Linked DNA regions of Homo sapiens: all the other regions are linked to region 5. A link means that fine-mapping ties the variant in region 5 to the expression of a gene that starts in the linked region. Tissue or cell type: whole blood. Region 5 holds a variant in brackets; each other region holds the start of a gene. Each region is shown on its reference strand, or each on the opposite one. Region 1 holds the start of CDH26 (cadherin 26). Region 2 holds the start of C4BPA (complement component 4 binding protein alpha). Region 3 holds the start of LINC00656 (long intergenic non-protein coding RNA 656). Region 4 holds the start of FGR (FGR proto-oncogene, Src family tyrosine kinase). Region 5 overlaps IKZF1 (IKAROS family zinc finger 1).

Region 1 (4,149 bases), not on the chromosome of region 5:
GAGATTTGTGAGATCCTGGTGCACCCATCACCCAAGCAGTATACACTGCACCATATTTGTTGTCTTTTATCCCTCACCCTCTTCCCACTCTTCCCCCCAATTCCCCAAAGTCCATTGTATGATTCTTATGCCTTTGTGTCCTCATAGCTTAGCTCCCACAAATCAGTGAGAATATACAATGTTTGATTTTCCATTCCTGAGTTACTTCATTTAGAATAATAGTCTCCAATCTCATCCAGGTCACTGCAAATGCTGTTAATTCATTCCTTTTTATGGCTGAGTAGTATTCCATCATATATATCTGTATATACACATATATATACATATATATGTGTATATATATGTGTATGTATATATATACATATATGTGTGTATATATGTGTATGTATATATATACATATATGTGTGTATATATGTATGTATATATGTGTATATATGTACATACACATATATACACATATATGTGTATATATACATATATGCGTGTATATATGTACATACACATATATACACACATATATGTGTATATATGTACATACACATATATACACGCATATATGTGTATATATACATATAGATACGCATATACACATTTTCTTTATCCACTAGTTGATTGATGGGCATTTGGGTTGGTTCCACGATTTTGCAATTGTGAATTTTGCTGCTATAAACGTGCATGTGCAAGTATCTTTTTCGAATAATGACTTCTTTTCCTCTGGGAAGATACCCAGTAGTGGGATTGCTGGATCAAATGGTAGTTCTACTTTTGTTCTTTAAGGAATCTCCACACTGTTTTCCATAGCAGCTGTACTATGTTATATTCCCCCCAGCAGTGTAGAAGTGTTCCCTGATTGTCACATCCACACCAACGTCTACTGTTTTTTGATTTTTTGATTATGGTCATTCTTGCAGGAGTAAGGTGGTATCGCACTGCGGTTTTGATTTGCGTTTTGCTGATCATTGGTGATGTTGAGCATTTTTTCATATGCTTGTTGACCATTTGTATATCTTCTTTTGAGAATTGTCTATTCATGTCCTTATCCCACTTTTTGATGGGATTGTTTTTTTCTTACTGATTTGTTGGAGTTCATTGTGGATTCTGGATATTAATCCTTTGTCAGATGTATAGATTGTGAAGATTTTCTCCCACTCTGTGGGTTGTCTGTTTACTCTGCTGACTGTTCCTTTTGCAGTGCAAAAGCTCTTTAGTTTAATTAGGTCCCAGCTATTTATCTTTGATTTTATTGCATTTGCTTTTTGGTTCTTGGTCATGAAATCCTTGCCTAAGCCAATATCTAGAACAAGCAAAGAAAGTTTACCTTTTATTTTATCTGTTTACTACTTTAAACAAGGTAATGTGATAAAAAGGTCATGTTAAGGTAATCAGGGTTAATGTATCACAGATTGTGTTTTAAAACTTGCTTACTGCAACCTTAAGTATTGGTATAATATAATCTCAAATTGTCTCTTTCAGAATTCTCATGCAAAGACTCCCGGGTTGCCACAGAGATCCCTGTCCATAGGGAGGCTCTTTCCCATCTCTCCTCCCTCCCACTTTAATTCCAAACTCAAAAAGGCAGATTAATCTAAGCTTAAAAAAGGTTTTAGTAGAAATAATTTGAAAACCCCAGAGCCCTGGGATATTGTTGGAATAACGATTTTTAGTGCTTTGGAAAGTAAAAGTTGATTTTTCTTTTCTTTCATTCTTCCCCATCCCTTCCCCCTTAATAAAGTTATCATTCTTGTCATTTTCTAGTTTTTTTTGTTTGGTTCAAGAGGATAAGATTATAGAAAATAGTCACTAACATATCCTGCTATAGAAAGAGATGATTGGACCTTCTATTTGGAAACCAGAACAAACAAGGAAACAAAGAAACAAATAATTCTGCTTTCCGATAGGTGCTGGTTTTACTTCCGCTGGCTGAGCTGTTGTTCCTGAGGTCAGACCCCAGCCAGTCTTTTGTGTACGTGCAGGACCATGGTGGCTTTAGTTTCTACCCCACCCTTCCTAGGAACTCTACTTGTGGCAAACGTATGTTCAAGCTTACAAGTCAGCCCACCCCACTCTGATAAATGCAAGAAAAGCTGAAAAGGGAGGAGCAAGATGGGATGAAAGCATCTGGGCCAAAGTGACCTGAAAACCTTTAGAGAAGAAGCTGCTGGCTGAGAAGGAGGTGTGTGGCTCCGGTGAGACCACCAGCTTGGAGGACTGGTCATCAGCTGCACGTTCTGGGTCTGTCTTGGGTATTCCCATATGGCCATGAGATCCGGGAGGCACCCCTCGCTGCTGCTGCTTCTAGTGCTGCTGCTGTGGCTGCTGCAGGTAAGCTGAGCCTGCAGCCTAGTGCTCAGGTGCAGGGAACTGAAAGCAAAGCACAAGCTGGCCCTGCCCCTTCTAGGCTAAGGGAGGGGAGAGGGACTGAGTGTGACCTGCTGGGACCCAGGGCTGGCTGTCTTGAGAATGGCTTAGGTAGCAGGGGCTCTGGATTTATATAAAGGGAAGTTAAGGGTCCCAGTCTGTTTGGGGCAACAGTGGGAGCAGGCTAAGGGACCTGTTTAAAACTAATTTATATAGTTCACACTATTTTTAGTGAGATTACATCAACACACACGTGTTTTCTTTCTTTGTTTCTTTCTCCTTTTGTTGAGACAGGGTCTGGCTTCATCATCCAGGCTGGAGTGCAGTGGCATGATCAAGGCTCACTGCAGCTTTAACCTCCCAGGCTCAGGTGATCCTTCCACCTCAGCCTCAAGAGTAGCTGGGACTACAGTAACTTACCACCACGCTGGCTAATTTCTGTATTTTTTATAGAGATGGATTTTCACCATGTTGCCCAGGCTGGTCTCGAACTCCTAAGCTCAAGTGATTTATTCGCCTTGCCCTTCCGAAGTGTTGGGTTTACAGGCATGAGCCACCTCACCCAGCCAACACACACAATTTTTTTTTTTTTTTGAGACAGGGTCTCGTCATCCAGGCTACAGTGCGTGGTGACATCTCAGTGCACCGCAACCTCCTCCTACTGGGTTCAAGCAACCTCCTGGCTCAGCCTCCCGAGTACTGGGACTACAGGTGCACGCCACCATGCCCGGCTAGTTTTTGTATTTTTATTAGAGACAGGGTTTCACCATGTTGGCCAGGCTGGTCTCAAACTCCTGACCTCAAGTGATCTGCCTGCCTCAGCCTCCCAAAGTGTTAGGATGACAGGCTTGAGACACTGCGCCCTGCCAAGTTTTATAATGATACTTCTGTTCACACTTTACATAAGATTGAGGAAATCTCAGTTGTCTGGATCCAAGGCAATTTGAGCAAACCCATGGGGATGGAATGGCTAAATCCATTGCCCCCAACTGCCACTGTTTAAATGGGAATACAAACTAGTGGAGTCAGGATTCGAAACACATGGGCTTGCTCTGTTTGTACTTAGAGTGGACAGAGGTAATGTTGCATGCGCTTGTTGGTTATGATCTGCTTCGTTGGCTTTCTGTAGGTAGGGAGAGGGAATCATTTCTTCCTTTGAATACCAGCTGAGGGTGGGAAGCAGCCCAGTGGCTGGTAACTGTGAGCTCTGGACTGGGCTGCTTGGCGTCCTGACCTAGGCTCCTTCACAGCCCGCTGGGGACCTAGGCCAGCTTAACTTTGTTCCTTACCTTGGATCAAGTTGAACTTACCTAGGGAGCTTCAAGGGATCTCAGTGCCTGGGTTTTGCCCCCAAAGGTTCAGGTTGAGCTGACCTGGGAGTGCACTGGGTGTCAGTGCACTGGTTTTAACATAACCTTGTTAAGCCTATTTTTCTTCACCTGAAAATGGAGCTAGTAACTGAATTTATCTGAGCCAGTGGTTGTACCAGTGAATGAGGAAATGCGTAAAAGCCCTTGGTACTGCGAAAGTTGTCAGAATCAGAATGGAGTTCCTTATGTTAAAACACACACACACACACACACACACACAGGCACAAAGCCTGATATATAGACACAAAGAAGGTTATGAAAAGGGGGTTCTCACATTTGTAGGCTTGATAACTAAAACTATCACAAAAGCTCTGCAAAAATAACAACTTTGCACAAAGGCCGTTAAAACCTTACACAAAAAATACTTTTTCGAAGAAATCTTCCCAGCAACTTTTTGTGCAAACTCAGACCAGTGTCACC
Region 2 (4,149 bases), not on the chromosome of region 5:
ACTTGCACATAGCCTGGACTGGCCTAGATGAAGCATGGAAATTGGTGAGAGAGAAGGTGGCTGGAAAGATAAGTCAAAGCCAGTTTATGGAGGCTTTTGAATGACGTGCTAGAGAATATACACTTGTTTTTGGTAGGCAGAGAATATACATTTGTTTTTTGGCAGTCAGACCATGAAGACATGGAAGCCTTGCAAACAATGAAGTAATAAGGACAGAACATAAAGAAAGATTTCTCTCACAATGTTGGTTGTAGTATTGGTTGATGAGGGAAAAGAACTAAGAGAAACCAACGAAAGGACTCCTACAATAGTCCATATGGGAGGCATTATCAACCTGAACTGGTTTGGTGGCAGCAGAAATGAAAAAGCAGCAGCAGACACGAGAGATATTGAAAACTTGTATCAAAACAACCTGTCAACTAATCAAACATTGAAGGGTGAGGGAGAGGAAGAGTTCAAAAGTGAATCTGAAATTTTATTCCCGAGAACCAGAGGTCAGAAAAAGCTGGGGTCAGAAAGTGAAGCTTGTTGGCCGGAAATGAGAAATTCCTCTTTGGATGTGCTGAGGGTGAAGTGCTTGCAAGATGTCCAGTGGGGGGAAAAAAAAAACAAAACCTAAGAAAGTAAGTCTTGAGTTTCGGAGAGTAATCAGAAATAATAATGTAGTGCTGGCTAGTCTTCTTACTGGTAATAGTTAAAGCTGTGACAGAAGGCAAGATCATTAAAATTGCGAAGATAATTTTTTTAAAAAAAGAAGAGCCTGAGATATATCTATATTTAGGAATGAGAAGGAGGAAGAGAAGGTAACAGTAACTAAGAAAGAGAAATTAGTTAAGTTAAGGGAATCAGGTAAGTTTAGTGTCATGGAAGCCAAAGGAGAAGAGAGTTTCAGAAAGGAAATGATCAGCAGTGACAAAGGCTGCAGACAGATCCTAAGAAATGAATTAAAGATATTTTGGACTTGGACCTAAGGGCGTGCCTCAGAGAGACATGTCAGTAGAAGAGTGGTAGAAGCCAGATGGGAAAGCAACAGGTGGAGTGATGAATGAGAAAGAACAGGCAGGTAGAACAAGTCACACCTTTGAGAAGTTCAGCATCACACTAAAGAAGAAAGGTGGAATTTGAGGTATTGGCAAAATTGAAGGGACATTTCAGGATGAGAGATGCATTGAAAATGAGGCAGGAAAAGAAGAAACAATTCTCCTCGGAATGAGGAGTGAATAGGAGGGAAAATTTGACATTGATGAAGCTAAGGTAGAATGATTTTTAGTAAAGTAGGAGGTAAGAGCATCTGCTGAGAGGGAATGTGACAATTTGGTGACCTGGAGAGAAAAATCTGCAAGAGTCACTGTGGAAAGTAAACGAAAGGACTTCAATACATTGGAAAACGGTACTTTAAAGAAATAGCAGCTTTAAAGGTGATATTTCTTCCAATTTAGTCTCAAGACTGTGCAATCTGGAATCCTCCTCTATCTTCATTCTGGTCAAATCAGTGTCTCACCTTGGTGACCTAGCGCATGGTTTCTTTACATCTAATATCCTTACCACTTTTATCTAATAATTTCTACCTTTTATCCAAATCTCACATCTTCTGTAGAAACTTCCTTGATTAACTCAACCTGTTGTAGTTTAGTTCCTTTTCTGAAACTCTTCTGGGACTTTCAGTATTTATTACAGAAAAAGTGAAGTTCTCAGAAAGAATTGCCTTTTAATAGCAATCTTCTGAGCACACAAATCTTAACCTTGAGGATTAGTAGCTTAATTGGACTATGTAAGTGCTTGTGGTCTTTTTAGATCTATGCGAGAGGAAACATGGCCGGTCCTTCATTGCGTTCTTCTGAGCGCACTGGATAGATCAATTTTTGGAGGCCCTCTGGTGCCTGACATGTAGTAGCAGTTAACATTTGCTGAACTCCAAATACGTTCTAGATAACTCAGCACATAGTGGAAACCCAATGCATGTTTGATAAATTCCCCACCTTTTGTAATTCCTTGGGGTGGGATAGAGACGAGCTCTGGGCAAGAATATCAGTTTTCAAACTCCAGGAAAGCATACTGGACCTAGTGTCATGGAAAGTGGATCATTTTTGCGGAGGCTCTCTGAACCTCGCAGTATCCAAGGTTTCCAGGCTAGCTGGACTGTGTCTTGCCATAACCCTTATGTGTTTATGAAAAGAAAAAAGAATTCTGGCTTCAAATTCAAATTACCTTTCCACTTAGGGGAAATGGTTGGCAGAGGAGAAAATAAACGATTGCGACATGTTACGAAGAATGAGGACTAGCAAAGAGGAAGGAGCTTAGGTAAACAGTGCTGCTTTATTTCTGCTGTTAATCATTCATTGGGCCCGTCAAAAGTTTCTGCCCATCTATTTCCATCAACCGTCCTTGACCAGCCAACCACATGGCTGAAATTCAGGGACTCTTTGGTGGAGCAATTACCAGTCAACTTCAGGGTATTATGATAAACTCTGATCTGGGGAGGAACCAGGACTACATAGATCAAGGCAGTTTTCTTCTTTGAGAAACTATCCCAGATATCATCATAGAGTCTTCTGCTCTTCCTCAACTACCAAAGGTCGGTGGACTACTAAACCCTTGGGGAAGCTTGGAGGAAAGGCTGGTGGTTTGGCCCTTTAAGGAGTGCAGGATTAGAAGGATAAAACAGAGACAAAAGCTTGGAGGTGTTTTCAGCAGAAATCTTTTCAGGAGCACTGTATTAGGGGGATGTAAGACTTGAGACGTACTTTAAACCCTATCTGAACCTCAAGTTTTAAAAATTATAAATGGAGGAATAATATTGCATTCTAATAAAATAAGCTAAAGAAGAAGAGGTGTAAGGTGTTGCTCTTGTTACTGTATCTAAAAGACAGATGTGTTGGTTTGTTGATCTTTCACCACCTTCCCACATCAGAGTTGAGGCAAGGGGTCAATCAGACTTTTCAAAGGGTTCACAGGAAGCTTGCTTTTCTTAGTCTACATTCTGAAAACTGGGGCCATTTCTATTTTGAGATTTGATTAACCACTCCAAATCTCCTCCACCACTGACAGCAAAGATGTTTAGATTTGGTAATAAGGAGGACACTGGCCAGCCTCCAGTTGGTTTCTGAAGCTAGCAGTCTTAGTCGTCCTCATCTTCTTTACTTTCTGAATTTGACGATGCTGATAACCCTTCCTTCTTGAAATTCTCTTCTTCCTTGGTTGGCCAGGATACAGTACCATTCTGGTCCTCATTTTAATTCTTCAACCACTTGTCTCTTTGCTGATTCCTATTCTATCTCTAAATATGGTAACACCAAAAGAATAAAAAGTAGACTACAGAAGAGGCAGAAGCATCAAAGAAGGTTGGCATTAAGCTTAGAGATATGTTTGAATGTAGTATGAGCACAGAATAAAGGGGCTGATAGAAAAATAAAGAGATTTGGCCAGGTACGGTGGCTCACTCCTGTAATCCCAGCACTTTGGGAGGCCGAGGCTGGCGGATCACCTGAGGTCGGGAGTTCGAGACCAGCCTGACCAACATGGAGAACCCCTGTCTCTACTAAAATTACAAAATTAGCCAGGCATGGTGGCACATGTCTGTAATCCCAGCTACTTGGGAGGCTGAGGCAGGAGGATCATTTGAACCAGGGAGGCAGAGGTTGGGGTGAGCTGAGATCGTGCCATTGCACTCTAGTCTGGGCAACAAGAGTGAAACTCCACCTCAAAAAAAAAAAAAAAAGAAAAAAAAAAGAGATTCTAGGAAGGGTGGGGAAAGTGTGGGAGCCAGTTCTTTCTGGAGTTTGTAAGTGATATAATTGAGAGCCCAGGTATAAGGAAGAAGACACTCAGCCCGAGACTGGAGAAAAATACTATCCTTTCACAAGGTATCTGCATTTTAAAAGGGGGAAGTTAGACAAAATAAATATTAACTTAAAAAGTAACTTCTCATGGAAGGAGAAATTTGAGGACTAAAGATTTTTCCAGTGACTCTCAAATTGCACTGCATTGCTAAGTGCTGATATTATTTTTCACAAGGGACCCGCCATGCTGACTAAAGTTCTTGAGTTGGTTCCATTTCTGCAGGAATTTAAAAGGTGAAGTCCTTGAAATATGAAAGTTGGCTAGAGTAGTCTCAGCTTTTCAGTGAGCAGTTACAGAATTGCAGAATTT
Region 3 (4,149 bases), not on the chromosome of region 5:
GGGCAAATGTTAGTATCGACCTCCCTGAAAAGTAGCAAGGAAGGCTTTTTTCTTTTTTTTGCCAAAACTTGCATAAGACTTAGAAAGTTCCAAATGGCTCTTCTTGCTTATCCAGCGCTTTTGGCTGCCTGTGACACACTGTCCCTGAAGCACCAAAATTTCATAAGAGCTGAGGATAAAACCCAAAGAGGGCCACTCTCCAAGTCACCCAACATCCCAGACTTCACACTTCACAGGGTGAAAAGAATGTAGTCTTCTAAACATGATGCAAAGGTGTTAGCAAACTCAGAAGGTCTAAGTCACAGCAAGATTTTCTTTTATTCCACTTCCCTGCCAAGGATTTCAGTGGAACAAAATAAACCAGACCTCCAAACAGCACGACTAAGTGTGAAAGATTCAGTTATCTTTAGGTTTCTTCAAGCAGTATTTGGCAAGCCGCTGTTTTTGGATCACGTATTTTCCACAATAAGTCAATAGATATTCCATTCAAAAAAAGAAGCAAAATGAGTTTGAATGTTTTGTCAAATTATGCTTGAGCATAGCTGTATACTTACCCTGGCTTGGCAATTAAAATATTTATTAGCATATTAAATTCACAAACAACTATAAATAAAGAAACCTGGTTTACTTAAAAGCAGTGTTGTCCATTGGAAAACATGGCATCATGCTATGGATTGAGTGCCCTGTGTAATCCGTAGAGAGCTCACTCTGGATGACTTAAGCTATATTTGAGCACTCTGATTTTCCGTATCTTGATCCAGATGTTTGACATCTCAAGAGGCATGGAGGCCTGGTGTGGTGGTTCAGGCCTGTCATCCCAGCAATGTGGGAGGCTGAGGCAGGAGAATGGCTTGAGCCCAGCAGTTTTAGACCAGCCTAGGCAACAACCTGAGATCCCAACTCTACAAAAAATAAAAAAAATCAGCCAGGCGTGGTGCATGTGCCTGTGGTCCCAGCTACACAGGAGGCTGAGGTGGGAGGATCGTTTGATTCTAGGAGGCTGAGGCTGCAATAAGCCATGTTTGCACCACTGCACTCCAGCCTGGGTAACAGAGGGAGACCCTATCTTTAAAAAAAATTATAATGAAAAATAAAAAAATAATTTAAAAAAGGGCATGGTGTAGCCTGTGCTACTGAAGGGTCCTTTATCTCTGTCAGCCATTCCTAAAGTCCACTAGAGAATAACAAAATATTCTTTTTCCACCAATTGGTATTTATTTCTGTGATAACTGAAGAATTCCGCCACACAAGCATCACCCGGGTCAGCTGCCACAGACAGTGACCATATTTGTGAGGCTTACATGGTGACCAGGAGCTTAAATTGACCTCAGACCTCAAGAATCTCCTGATAATCTGACCACGATTAAAACGTGGCCCACAATCCTTTCAGCACGTGAAATGACTGGCCAGGCTTTCCAAGAATCCCAAAGACTTCAGCCCAAACAAGAAGCTGACCTCTTAGACCAGCAGCAGATCATCCTACCGCGGCCCTTTTCCTTATTTGTTAAGGCCCCGCTTCTTGTCATTATATCGTCAGCACGATTATTCGGTGTGTTTTCTGGTTGTGTGGTTTATGCACTATTTATTTCCTGATTCTTATCTTTTTCTCCAAGAATAGCAGCACAGACATCAAGTCAATTTCAGCATGGATTTATTCTGCCTGGAAGGTGGGTCCCAGTCACACTAGTACAGAGGTGACAAAATCATGTGTGTCCAGCAACTAAGTCCGCAACGCAGTCCCATTTAGTCCTCAGGGAGCTCATATGGCAGAAGGACTTGTTTCCCAGGAGAGGGCCGGGGCCTGGAGCAGGCTGATGGATTGCTCCTCCAGCAGCTGCAGAACTGGGCCTAGGACCGGGGCTCACTCTACCACTCATCTGCCCCGTCTCCATTAGCACCTAGCCTCAGAACAGCATTTATGAAGCACTTACCACACATACCCAGGAAAGGCTCGTGTTCTGCAGTGGTTACCTTACAATTCAGAATGAACTTTGAACAAATCCCTGAAGACAACGAGGCTGGCCGTGGATGTGCAGCTGCCTTGCGCCTTAGTGTGTCATCTGTAAAATGAGGTAATAGCAACGTATGTCTCATGGGTTACTACTGTCAGAGTCAAATGAGGTAATTGTAGGTAACGCCCTTTGCACAGTGTCAGGCACACCATGAGAGCTGGAAAAGCGTTGGCTTTTAACATTCCTCTTATTCTTCCTTTCTGTTTTCTGAATTTCTGGGTTTCATATCGAAGTGTGAAGAGGGATGAGTTTCAAAGGAGGTAGAGAGTCCCTTAAGCTAAAGGTTTTCCTTTGGAGGGCTGGGGGCCAAGAACACGAGAACCTTCTCTATCTGCAGGGCCTGGTCTTGCTTCCACATTGTGGAACCAAGGGCCAGCAGAGAAAGATAGAGACTAACCCCAGCCCCAGGCCCCAGAGGTGGGGGCTCCAGGATCACAAAGACCCCAGCTTGGCTCCGCCTCTCTCTTTCTCAATGCATGAGCAGCAGCACTGAGGGGACTGGGGCTTCCTGGAATTTTAAAAAGGGTTTTTCTAACAATTCCTGGAACTGTGAAGTCAGTGGGGAAGGTCATGGGTGGAGTGAGGTCATGGGCCTAGCTCCAGAAGTGTGCCGACAGATAAGGCGCCTTGGTCTGGGGCTCTCCAGCCTCTAACGCCCAGATGGCTTCCCTCTGGGGCTGCAAAGTTTACAGGAGAGACCAGATGATGGCACTGACAATGGAGGGTGGGTCTCCTCTACACTTCCCACCCCAATAGCTGCCTTTGCCCTAGAGGGGCCCAGACACATTCGTTGGCAGTAAAAGCTTCACCCTCCAGAGCAGAAGGGGAGGCCCACAGGCTTCTCCCTGAACTTCATCATCCCAGTGGATGCAGGGTCGGGGTATTTAGGGCTCTTTTCTAAGGAGCTGCATTAGGATCTCGGCACATTTTTTTCTTTGTTAATTTTGTTTATCTATCAATTCAACTTATTTGGGCTAAGGCCAGAAAAAGATTAGCTGGGATTTAGGGAGCATCCGTATCAGTTTATTGTGACTGTATTATGTAGGCGTCATTGATACGATGCAAACTCACTTTAAATGCCAACAGGCATCAGCAGGTGGAGATAGTAAGGTTAGCGCCCTTCACTAGAAGGCACAGACACTGGTTAGGGAGGGAGGAAGGCAGAGCCAGCAGCCAGCTCCTGTGGTGCCGGTTATCAACCGGTTATCAGATGGGTGCTGTGAGCAACTGATCTCCCTGGCTATGAGTCTGTTCTGGAAAACTGCGGCCTAACCAAGGCTGTCCCGGGCTCTTCCAGCTGCTCAGAGGGAGGGTCCTAAGATCTTACAGACATAGCTAGGTCATGCTTCCCATGTCAATCAGGGCAAACAGAACACACTAACAGTGAACAAGTCCAAGAGGGGATTAAGAAAACAATTCTATTTACAACAGCATCAAAAAGAATAAACATTTGGAAATAAAATTCACCAGCAAGGAGAAAGACTTGGACACCAAAACATTAAAAAAATACCGGCCGGGCGCGGTGGCTCACGCCTGTAATCCCAGCACTTTGGGAGGCCGAGGTGGGCAGATCACAAGGTCAGGAGATCGAGACCACGGTGAAGCCCCGTCTCTACTAAAAATCCAAAAAAATTAGCTGGGCGCGGTGGCGGGCGCCTGTAGTCCCAGCTACTCGGGAGGCTGAGGCCAGAGAATGGCGTGAACCCGGGAGGCGGAGCTTGCAGTGAGCCGAGATCACATCACTGCACTCCAGCCTGGGCGACAGAGTGAGACTCTGTCTCAAAAAAAAAAAAGACCAATGAAATAAATTAAAGAAGAAATAAAGAAATTAAAAGATTTCCTTTGTTCATGAATTGGAAGACTTAATATTGATAATGTGTCAAAACTAACAAGAGTGATCTACAGATGCAATGCAATCTCTATCAAAATCCCAAAGGGATTTGCTGCAGAAATAGCAGGATTCATCCTAAAATTCATATGGAATTTTAAGGGGCCCTGGAGAGCCAAACAATCTTGAGAAAAAAAGAACAAAGTTGGAGGACTCAAACCTCCTGATTTCAAATCATATTACAAAGCTACAGTAGGCAAAACATTGTGGTACTGGAATAAAGACAGATATATAGACCAATGGAATGAA
Region 4 (4,149 bases), not on the chromosome of region 5:
CTCCCAAACCTCCATCTTCCCATCTGTGAAGTGGGAACAGGGTCCTGCTCTCCCATCATCACCACAGTCGGAAGGATGCCAAGGACATCAGGGCCCCTGAGAGTACACACCCGAGGGGCGGCCAACTGGATGCAGCACCAGAGAGGGTGTGAGACAGATTTTAACTCTGCTGACCTCCCCAGTATGGGCTCTCATCAGAGCCATAAACTATTTAGACGCCAACTGTGTGCTGGTCCCTGGAGGCCCTGTCAGTGAGAGCCGGGCAGTCTGGTCCCCCTCCATGCTTTTTGTTGTTGTTGTTGTTTACAGACAAAATCTCACTCTCTCATCCAGGAGCTCTCACTGCAGCCTTGAACTCGTGGGCTCCAGCGATCCTCCGGCCTCAGCCTCTGGAGTAGCTGGGACTACAGCAGGTGCCACCACTTCCAGCCTTCTGGCTAACTATATTTTTTTGTAGAGACAGGACGGGGGTCTCCCTGTGCTGCCCAGGCTGGCCTCCTCTGCATGTTTTTGAGAAGGTGAAGGGGAGGCTCGCTGAGTCAGGGATAGCCCTTAACCCTTCAGGACACTCAGCAAAAACTGCTTTCTGCACCTGATTCTCGTGGGGGAAGAGTGGACACAAGGATCATTTCTCACCATAGTTCAGATGAGGAAAGTGAGGCCCAGAGAAGCCCTGTAACTTGCCCACAGTCACACAGCAATTAAGGGCCCAGTCTTGCTAAGAACCCAGGTCTCTCAAACAGCAGATCCTCCACCCCAGGATCCCTGAACACAGCGGCATCGCCTCCTACCTCGGTCGGGAAGCCCACCCCCCACCCACCAGACCGAGGATTCCAAAAGGGGGCGAAGGCGGAGAGCAAAGGGGGCTGCGCCCACCCGGAGCCCCGCGGCGGCCCAGCGCGGCCCGCCCTCTCGTTGCCTTGGAGGCAGCCCCTGCGGGCACTCGCGGTCAAAGGCAGGATTTCCGTCGGGGCGGCAGCAATTCCCGGATCCAGCGGGGAGCGCGGGCCGAGACCGCCGCGGGCGCGGAGGGGGCGCCCGGAGAGGCCTGTCCCTGCCGAGGGCGGGGACTTCCCCAGGAAGCGGGGACCCACGCCTCGCGCGCCCGGCAGGAGTCCCCTGCAGCCCGGAACCTACCGCAAGGGCGGGCCGAGAGGGTCGCGGGGCCGCGGTCGCGGCCGCTAACGTTACCCTGCGGGCTGTGGGCTTCACCCCGACTTCGGCCGGCTCGGAAGAGGGGAACTTCCTGGACCCGCAATTGCACCCCAGGTTCTCCGTCCTCCAGAAGTCGTTCTCCTCAACCCCCTTCCCGCCAGCTCCCTCTCCTGTTCCCTCCAGCACCCCCACCCATTTCCCCTCTCCTGGACCCATCAGACCCGTCGGCTTCTCCCCAAAGTCCCACTCTCACGATCCCTTCAGTTTCTCCCCCAGACCGTCCTGGGGATTCCCCTTAATCCTTCTCCCCCACCTCAGCCCCCTTCCTAAACTCTTATCAGTCCCCTCCATTTTACCCACTAGACCTTTTTGGGGGTCCCTTTGGTCGGCTTCCCCCGTGCTCCCCTCCGCCCTCTCCTCCAGGTTTATCAGCCTTGCTTTTCAGGTCGCCCGTTTTCCTCCTTAGGCCTTTTCGGGCTGGGGTCCCTTTGGCTGTCACCTTGCTCATGTGTCCCCCGACCCCCAGGTTCAGGCTTCTCTTCCCGTGTACCCCCAGTCCTCTCTCCAGAGCCTCGAGGGGGAGGGCACTGCTTGACCTGCCCAGTCCCCACCCGACGCTGTCGCTTACCTGGAGCCCAATTCTGCCCGGCCCCGGGGTGAGCCAGCCGGGGCTCCAGCAGCCGCGAGTGCCGGCGTGCGGGGAGAACTGGGGTGCTGCCCGCCTCTGACCGCCGCCCCTGCTGGGCAGGGAGGAGGAAGCCGCCTCGGACTTCTCTTATTGCAGTCACGGCCGGCGGGCGGTGATGGTGGCAGGGAGACAGTCACGCCCTAGCCCCAAGCCAGCTCCCCGCAGCGAGGAGGCGCCCCCAGATCCTAGGCCCACCCGCCCCCACCTTCCTCCTCCCTGGTTTACGGGAGGTCGGCTCTGTCACCCTCCAGACCTGAGTCCCCAGCCCGGCCTTCCCAAAAGCCCCCTCCAAAAGCGCAGTTTCAGCACCCCCGAAGCACCTGCTCTTTTAGGATCATTGAATTGGAGGTTAAGAGGGGCTTTTCTCCATCACTGAGGACCAGATCGGGACTGGCCTTACTCGAGTTCTCACAGCCAGTTGACTTCAGACTGCTGTCACCAGAGCCACTGGACATGGATCACATGGACCCTGTCAGCACGCCTTCCCTTCCTCAGGGGCTGAGCACTGGGGACACAGGGCTGTTAAGGGTGGTGAGCAGCAGAAGACCCTTCCCTTAGGAAACTGCCTTTCAGAGGAGTGGGAAGGGTGTCAGCCTCCCCCAGGCACCCAAGTTTTAGAAAAACTGAGTAACTGGCTGGGGGCAGTGGCTCAGCCTGTAATCCCAGCACTTTGGGAGGTTGGGTGGGAGGATTGCTTGAGCCCAGGAATTCCAGACCAGCCTAGGCAGCATAGGGAGACACCATCTCTACCAAAAAAAATTTTTCTTAAGTTAGCTCGGTGTGGTGGTGTGCACCTGTGGTCCCAGCTACTGCAGAGGCAGAGGTGGAAGGATCCCTCGAGTCAGGCAGGTCGAGGCTGCAGTGAGCTGTGATTGAGCTACTGCACTCTACCTTGGGTGACAGAGCAAGACCCTGCCTTAAAAAAAAAAAACACAAAAAAAGAATGTGGGTTTTGTTGCAGAAAATGACTTTTTTTAAAAAAAAGAAAGAAAAGGCCGGGTGCAGCGGCTCACGCCTGTAATCCCAGCACTTTGGGAGGCCGAGGCGGGTGGATCACGATGTTAGGAGATCAAGACCGTCCTGGCTAACACAGTGAAAGCCCATCTCTACTAAAAATCAAAAAATTAGCCGGGCGTGGTGGCGGGCGCCTGTAGTCTCAGCTACTCAGGAGGCTGAGGCAGGAGAATGGTGTGAACCCGGGAGGCGGAGCTTGCAGTGAGCCGAGATGGCGCCACTGCACTCCAGCCTGGGCGACAGAGCGAGACTCCGTCTCAAGAAAAAAAAAAAAAAAAAAAAAAAGGAAGAAAAACTGAGTATCTTAGAACATGTGGAAAAAGATTTTTAAAAACAAAAAGAGAAACGGTAGCATCCTCTATCAGTTCCAGTCTCTCTGTCTGATAGGGATCCCTGACCCCTCCTCAATCTGGGGTTCAGTCCCCACTCCCACCACTGTTACTTCAGCCTTAAAGCAAGAACCCGGAATATCCCTCCTGTCCAGGAGAGGAAGAGGTGTGGTGGGGAGGGCTGTTTGGTGGAGAAGGATGTGTCTGTTGGGATGTGGTGAGAGGCAGGGAGAGTGTGCGTAAACACAGAAGTGTGTGTGTGTGTGTGTGTGTGTGAGAGAGAGAGAGAGAGAGAAAGCAATGACATGATGACTTTGCTTTTGGAATCAACAACTAGGCCATGGTGTGCAGGCAAGTGTGTTTCTTTGTATGGGCAGGGGCATGTGGGGATGTGTGTGTGCATGCGTACACATGCTCAAGTGTGGCCCAATGTGCCTGGGGTAACAGAGTGGTGGGATGGAGATAAGAATGCTTTTCTCTTAGGAAATGGGAGGAGGGATGAGGAGGAAGACAGAGGAGCCAGTGGCAGTGCAGGGTCTCTGGAAGAGTGGCTTCACCCTAGCCGGGCAGCATCACCTCCGCCATCAAATGCTCCCTGCCTGGCCATCGGCCCACATGTTCAATTAGCAAACAAGCAAACGTTTATAATTGTGTCTTAGGTGCCAGCCTTAGGGAACACAGAGATGAGAGACTGGTCCCTGCTCTTGGGGGATCCCCCCAATCTATCATGCTCGCTCTGTCATCCTTCAAGGTCTGACTCACAAGCATCTGCTCTAGAGGCCTTCCCTGATTGCTGCCTCTACCCACTCCACACCCCCAGCAGAACCTCAGCATCTTCTGCCTGGGGCACCACTGGTTCCTGGGGGATGGGTGTGTGGGATATGTTTTCCTCAAGGGCAGGGGTCTGGCTCTTGTAGATGCCTCCAGTACCCACACAAGGCCCAGCACACAGTAGCAGGCTTT
Region 5 (4,000 bases):
TAGTCCCAGCTACTCGGGAGGCTGAGGCAGGAGAATGGCGTGAACCCGGCAGGCGGAGCTTGCAGTGAGCCGAGATTGCGCCACTGCACTCCAGCCTGGATGACAGAGCCAGACTCCATCTCAAAAAAAAAAAAAAAAAAGAAAAAGTAAAGAAAACATATTTTGTATGTTTTTTATGTGTCTTAGAAACCAAGTGGACTAGGTATAATGGTTCTTTTTTTTTTTAACTCAGCAGCACAGTTAATGGCACAAACAGATAAAGATGGTGGCTAAAGCCATTTGGTGTAGATGAATCCAGAAAACAAGTACATTTATGAATTATTTTACCCTATTGGAAAATGGCTACTATATGTGGAAAGTAGAGGGGAAGAGAAATGAACTTGTGAATTATCTACTCTATTCTACCAAAGAAAGATACATATATCATTTCAGGGTTTTCCAAAGTTGGGATGCAAAGGATCATGTTTCATTTTAATTTATGTATTTATTTTTGAGATTGTCTTCTATGTATTGCAAGTGATACTGGTTTTACCATGCACTGTACCACTACGAGGGTTCCTTTCAAAACACATTCATATAAATTAAAAAATCAGTTTAAATAAAAACATCAAGTCAATAGTAGTACATAGATATGATAAAAGTTTGCAAAAGTGGCACAGGAATAGTCATTGGGTGGTGATGTTCCCTGATTTTTTTAGTCCCTGAAGCACCCAGCGCCAAGGGTACTGTTCTTCCTGCTTAACACAGGAGCAAACAGATGCTCACACCCTGCCCAAGAACACAGAGGCTCAGGGACTGAACCAGAAGAAATGATCCATTAACCATGTAAATGAACAGAGAGCCTGGATGTCAGAGTGAGGAGGCCAGCTCGGGTCGCTGTGGAGAAAGAGATGGGCTCTCCCTGGAATCCCTGCAGCTGCCCTTAGAGGCTGTGAGCCATCGTGGCTAGGGCATCTTTAGAGAACTGAAAGTCAGGCCGATTCCTGGAGAGTGAAGAATAGCACACGTGCCTTCAAAACAGTGTCAGTATCCTGTCCCTTACGGACGTCATATTGTTGGTGGGTTTTCCTGGGTGGGAGATCACCCAGTATCTGGTTGGCATTACTGATGGGTTCCCAGAGCTGTCTTTTGGTTCAAAGTCCTGCCCTCGGTCCCAGCTGCCCCCAGCACAGGTGTCACCTTGGAGTCAGGGGCGGGTTTGTCATAGCCCATGGGTCCTGGCCCTGCCCTTTATCATGTTTGACATGATTTTCAGTCTACTTTTCCTTCAGGATGTAATTTAGAAAATATGATTTCAGAATTGTGAAATTTAAAAACCCTAGAAAACCTCTTTGCTTTGCTTGTAAATAGCAGTTGATGCAGCCCTGTGGACAGGCGGGAACAGCCATGTGACGTGGGCACTGAGATGATTTGGGAGATTGAATGCTCCTCAGTGGGGCTAGAGGCCACAGGAGTGATAGGTTACTGTAAAGAAAGCAAAAAAGATGCAAAAGCCTACATGACAAACCAGGCACGACACAAAGGAGAGGCTTGAGAAGAGGAAGTGAAGGAGGGAGAGGATTCCACAAGACCGAAGTGCCCAAGGAGACATGGAGGGAAGAGAGGGCTCTTCACAGAGCTGAGTTTAGAGACCACCCTCCATGGTTCTGGAAGGAAACCAGCCAGCTTTCATATGTGGTGACAGGCTGTTCATTAATTTGTAGTGTA[C/T]AGCATTAAATAAATGAAGTATGTAGAGAACATTAGGAAACAATATAAAAAGGTAGGGGAATTCGTGGATAAAGGGAATAACCTGGGTACCATATTTCATCACATTATTCCATGGGAATAAGTCATCAGTGCAAAGGACTGTAAGGAGTGCACAGCAGGAAATGAAAAGACAGAAGCAGTGGGGCCGAGAGGAGGAAATGGAGTTGCTGAAATGCAGGGTGAGCAGCAGGGGCGGAGAGTGCCCTGTGGGTAAGGCACACCTCAGAAGGGACAGGTCCAGGCCCTCTCCTCCCTGGCCTGGAGCTTCTGGCAAGGCTTTTCTTCTCTGAGCCTCACTTTCCTCTTTTGAAGGTGGCAATAGTAACTGAACCTGCATCACAGAATGGCCTTGAGGGTTAGATGGAACATATATAGACATAATTTGTTGAAGACAGAGTAGCAAAGACACAAAGTAAAAAGGACAGAAAAAAGAAATGCAACTTGTGCAAAATAGAACTTTCAAAGATTTACAAGAAGGGTAAATGAAGCTATCGTAGCTTCACTTGGGAAAAGGGAGAGAACAGATGACCAGCACCAAGGATAGAAGAGGGATTTCTTACTTTAAAAAAAATGGTCCAAAGAATAAACAAACTGAAAACAGCCAAAAGAGAAAGGAAGAATTTGTTAGAATAGGGCAAGACTAAAGGACAGAGTAAGGGTGCTGGCCGCCACCTGACTCAAGTTCAAGTCGAGCTGCCACTGTTGAAATTTCAAGGAGAAATGGTGAGAAGCTAAAAGATGCAAAAAAAAAAAAAAAGTGGGAAATTATTTGCTAATAATAGATTGCAAGAGTGTCTGCTTTAGAAAGTGACAAGGAACACTTTTGGAAAGCTGTGAGCTGTTATGACCACTGGCATCCTTCAGTTTTAGACAAATCTAATCTCAACAAGGATAACAGACCATATTAATAAACAAATTGATGGGAATGGTGGAAATCAGTTCCCTATGAGGAGGGTGCAAAGTTATACTGATTGGTGAGTCACTCCCAGAATAAACAAATAATGGTTTCACACCTCATTGCTTCATTCAGTGTGGAAGGAACATTCTAGGTTTGTGTGTAAGTTTGGGGAGAAGGAGACAGAGCCAGAGGGCAGAGCAGCCCTGCAGCCCTCAGTTGGCCTCCATTTTCTTCCCGGTCTGAAGAAAATGAAACAAAGGATTTAAAGTGTTGCTTGAAGAATTTAAGTTAGACTTAAAGGAGAGATGTGGTCTTTACTCTCCTTTTGGCAAGGAGAGTTTAGTCATCAGAATGGTCTATTTAGTGAGACTGTAGCTTGTTCTTCTGAAGTGGTCTTTTTAAAAACTAGAGAACTCTCACCTCTCTGAAGTGGTTGTGTATGAAACTGTTTAAAGCCGAGGATGCACTCAGTGACCTCTTCAGGCAACCCCAGATTTACTCAGTCAGCCATGGCACACATGCTAGAGAAGTAAAAAAATGAATTGAGACTTGTTCTGAAAACTCTTGAGCAGGGGCTCTTAAAAGTTTTTTGTTTAGGAATTATGTCAGGGTTGGGGTCTGGAGAGCAGATAAGTGTTTTGTGTGAGAAAAGTAAAAACTTAGTTATTTTCTTCCCGTATTCAGTAATCCTTGCATTTTTTTCCTCCTCCTTTATACATACATTTTTGCCAGTTACTGACTTCTCTCTTGTACACATTTCCGTGTCCTAAATTAACCAAGAGTCCTCAGCCACTAGGATTCTATTGACAAGCCCACAGGTCTGGAGGTGTGAGTAAGGGCATTCCTCCCCCATGAAATCAGGCAGCAGGGGAGGCGTTTGGGTGGGTGGAACAGAGGAGCAAAAGACCAGAGGACAGAGAAGAAAGATTGCAGGCTAGAAAACGGGATGGCCACCCCTGAGAAAGAGGACAAGCAAATTTAGGGCTTAGAGTAGAATTGAAGAAAAAACCCAGGGCAGAGGCACAGGAATGCTGTAGGACTGAACTGGGACCATGATTGATGTAAGTGGAGATGGGTTGGTTGAATCCGTGGAAGGCCAAAGGATTGAGGCCCATATGGGCCTGGGACAGGGCTTACTAAATGACTTGCTACCTGGCTTGATAATCGGGACAACCTCAGGCAGTAGTTATTCAGGCGGGAGGACACATGAGTTTGAATATAGGGAGATAAGGTATATTTCTATATGCCCTGGTACATTCCAGAATGTGCTTCTCTGGCTCTGTGCACTGGAGCAGCCAACTCCTGAAGTTGGGAGGGGATCGCCATGGTTTCATGAGTGGTTTATTTCAGCTTGCA

The links. PIP is the estimated chance that this variant, and not a neighbour inherited with it, causes the effect.
Region 1: it holds the start of CDH26, and the variant in region 5 is the best candidate, but not a certain one, in a credible set for the expression of CDH26 in whole blood (TOPMed, PIP 0.83).
Region 2: C4BPA starts here. The variant in region 5 is the best candidate, but not a certain one, in a credible set for the expression of C4BPA in whole blood (TOPMed, PIP 0.53).
Region 3: LINC00656 starts here. The variant in region 5 is the best candidate, but not a certain one, in a credible set for the expression of LINC00656 in whole blood (TOPMed, PIP 0.83).
Region 4: it holds the start of FGR, and the variant in region 5 is the best candidate, but not a certain one, in a credible set for the expression of FGR in whole blood (TOPMed, PIP 0.60).

Annotation. Positions count from the first base shown.
Region 1 is chr20:59,956,473-59,960,621 of GRCh38, forward strand. It overlaps CDH26 (cadherin 26), which reads left to right and starts at 1,951. Exons shown (of 18, transcript NM_177980.4): 1 at 1,951-2,323. The coding sequence starts at 2,255.
Region 2 is chr1:207,101,856-207,106,004 of GRCh38, forward strand. C4BPA (complement component 4 binding protein alpha) reads left to right here and starts at 2,378. Exons shown (of 12, transcript NM_000715.4): 1 at 2,378-2,575.
Region 3 is chr20:23,130,568-23,134,716 of GRCh38, forward strand. LINC00656 (long intergenic non-protein coding RNA 656) reads right to left here and starts at 2,069. Exons shown (of 4, transcript NR_034149.1): 1 at 1,932-2,069.
Region 4 is chr1:27,633,282-27,637,430 of GRCh38, forward strand. FGR (FGR proto-oncogene, Src family tyrosine kinase) reads right to left here and starts at 1,904. Exons shown (of 13, transcript NM_005248.3): 1 at 1,784-1,904. RefSeq lists a silencer at 980-1,029 and an enhancer at 4,028-4,087.
Region 5 is chr7:50,328,951-50,332,950 of GRCh38, forward strand. The region is part of intron 3 of IKZF1 (IKAROS family zinc finger 1); the gene reads left to right. Among named protein-coding and RNA genes, the nearest start is that of IKZF1, 26 kb to the left of the region's middle. The variant C/T (reference allele first, on the strand shown) is at 1,708.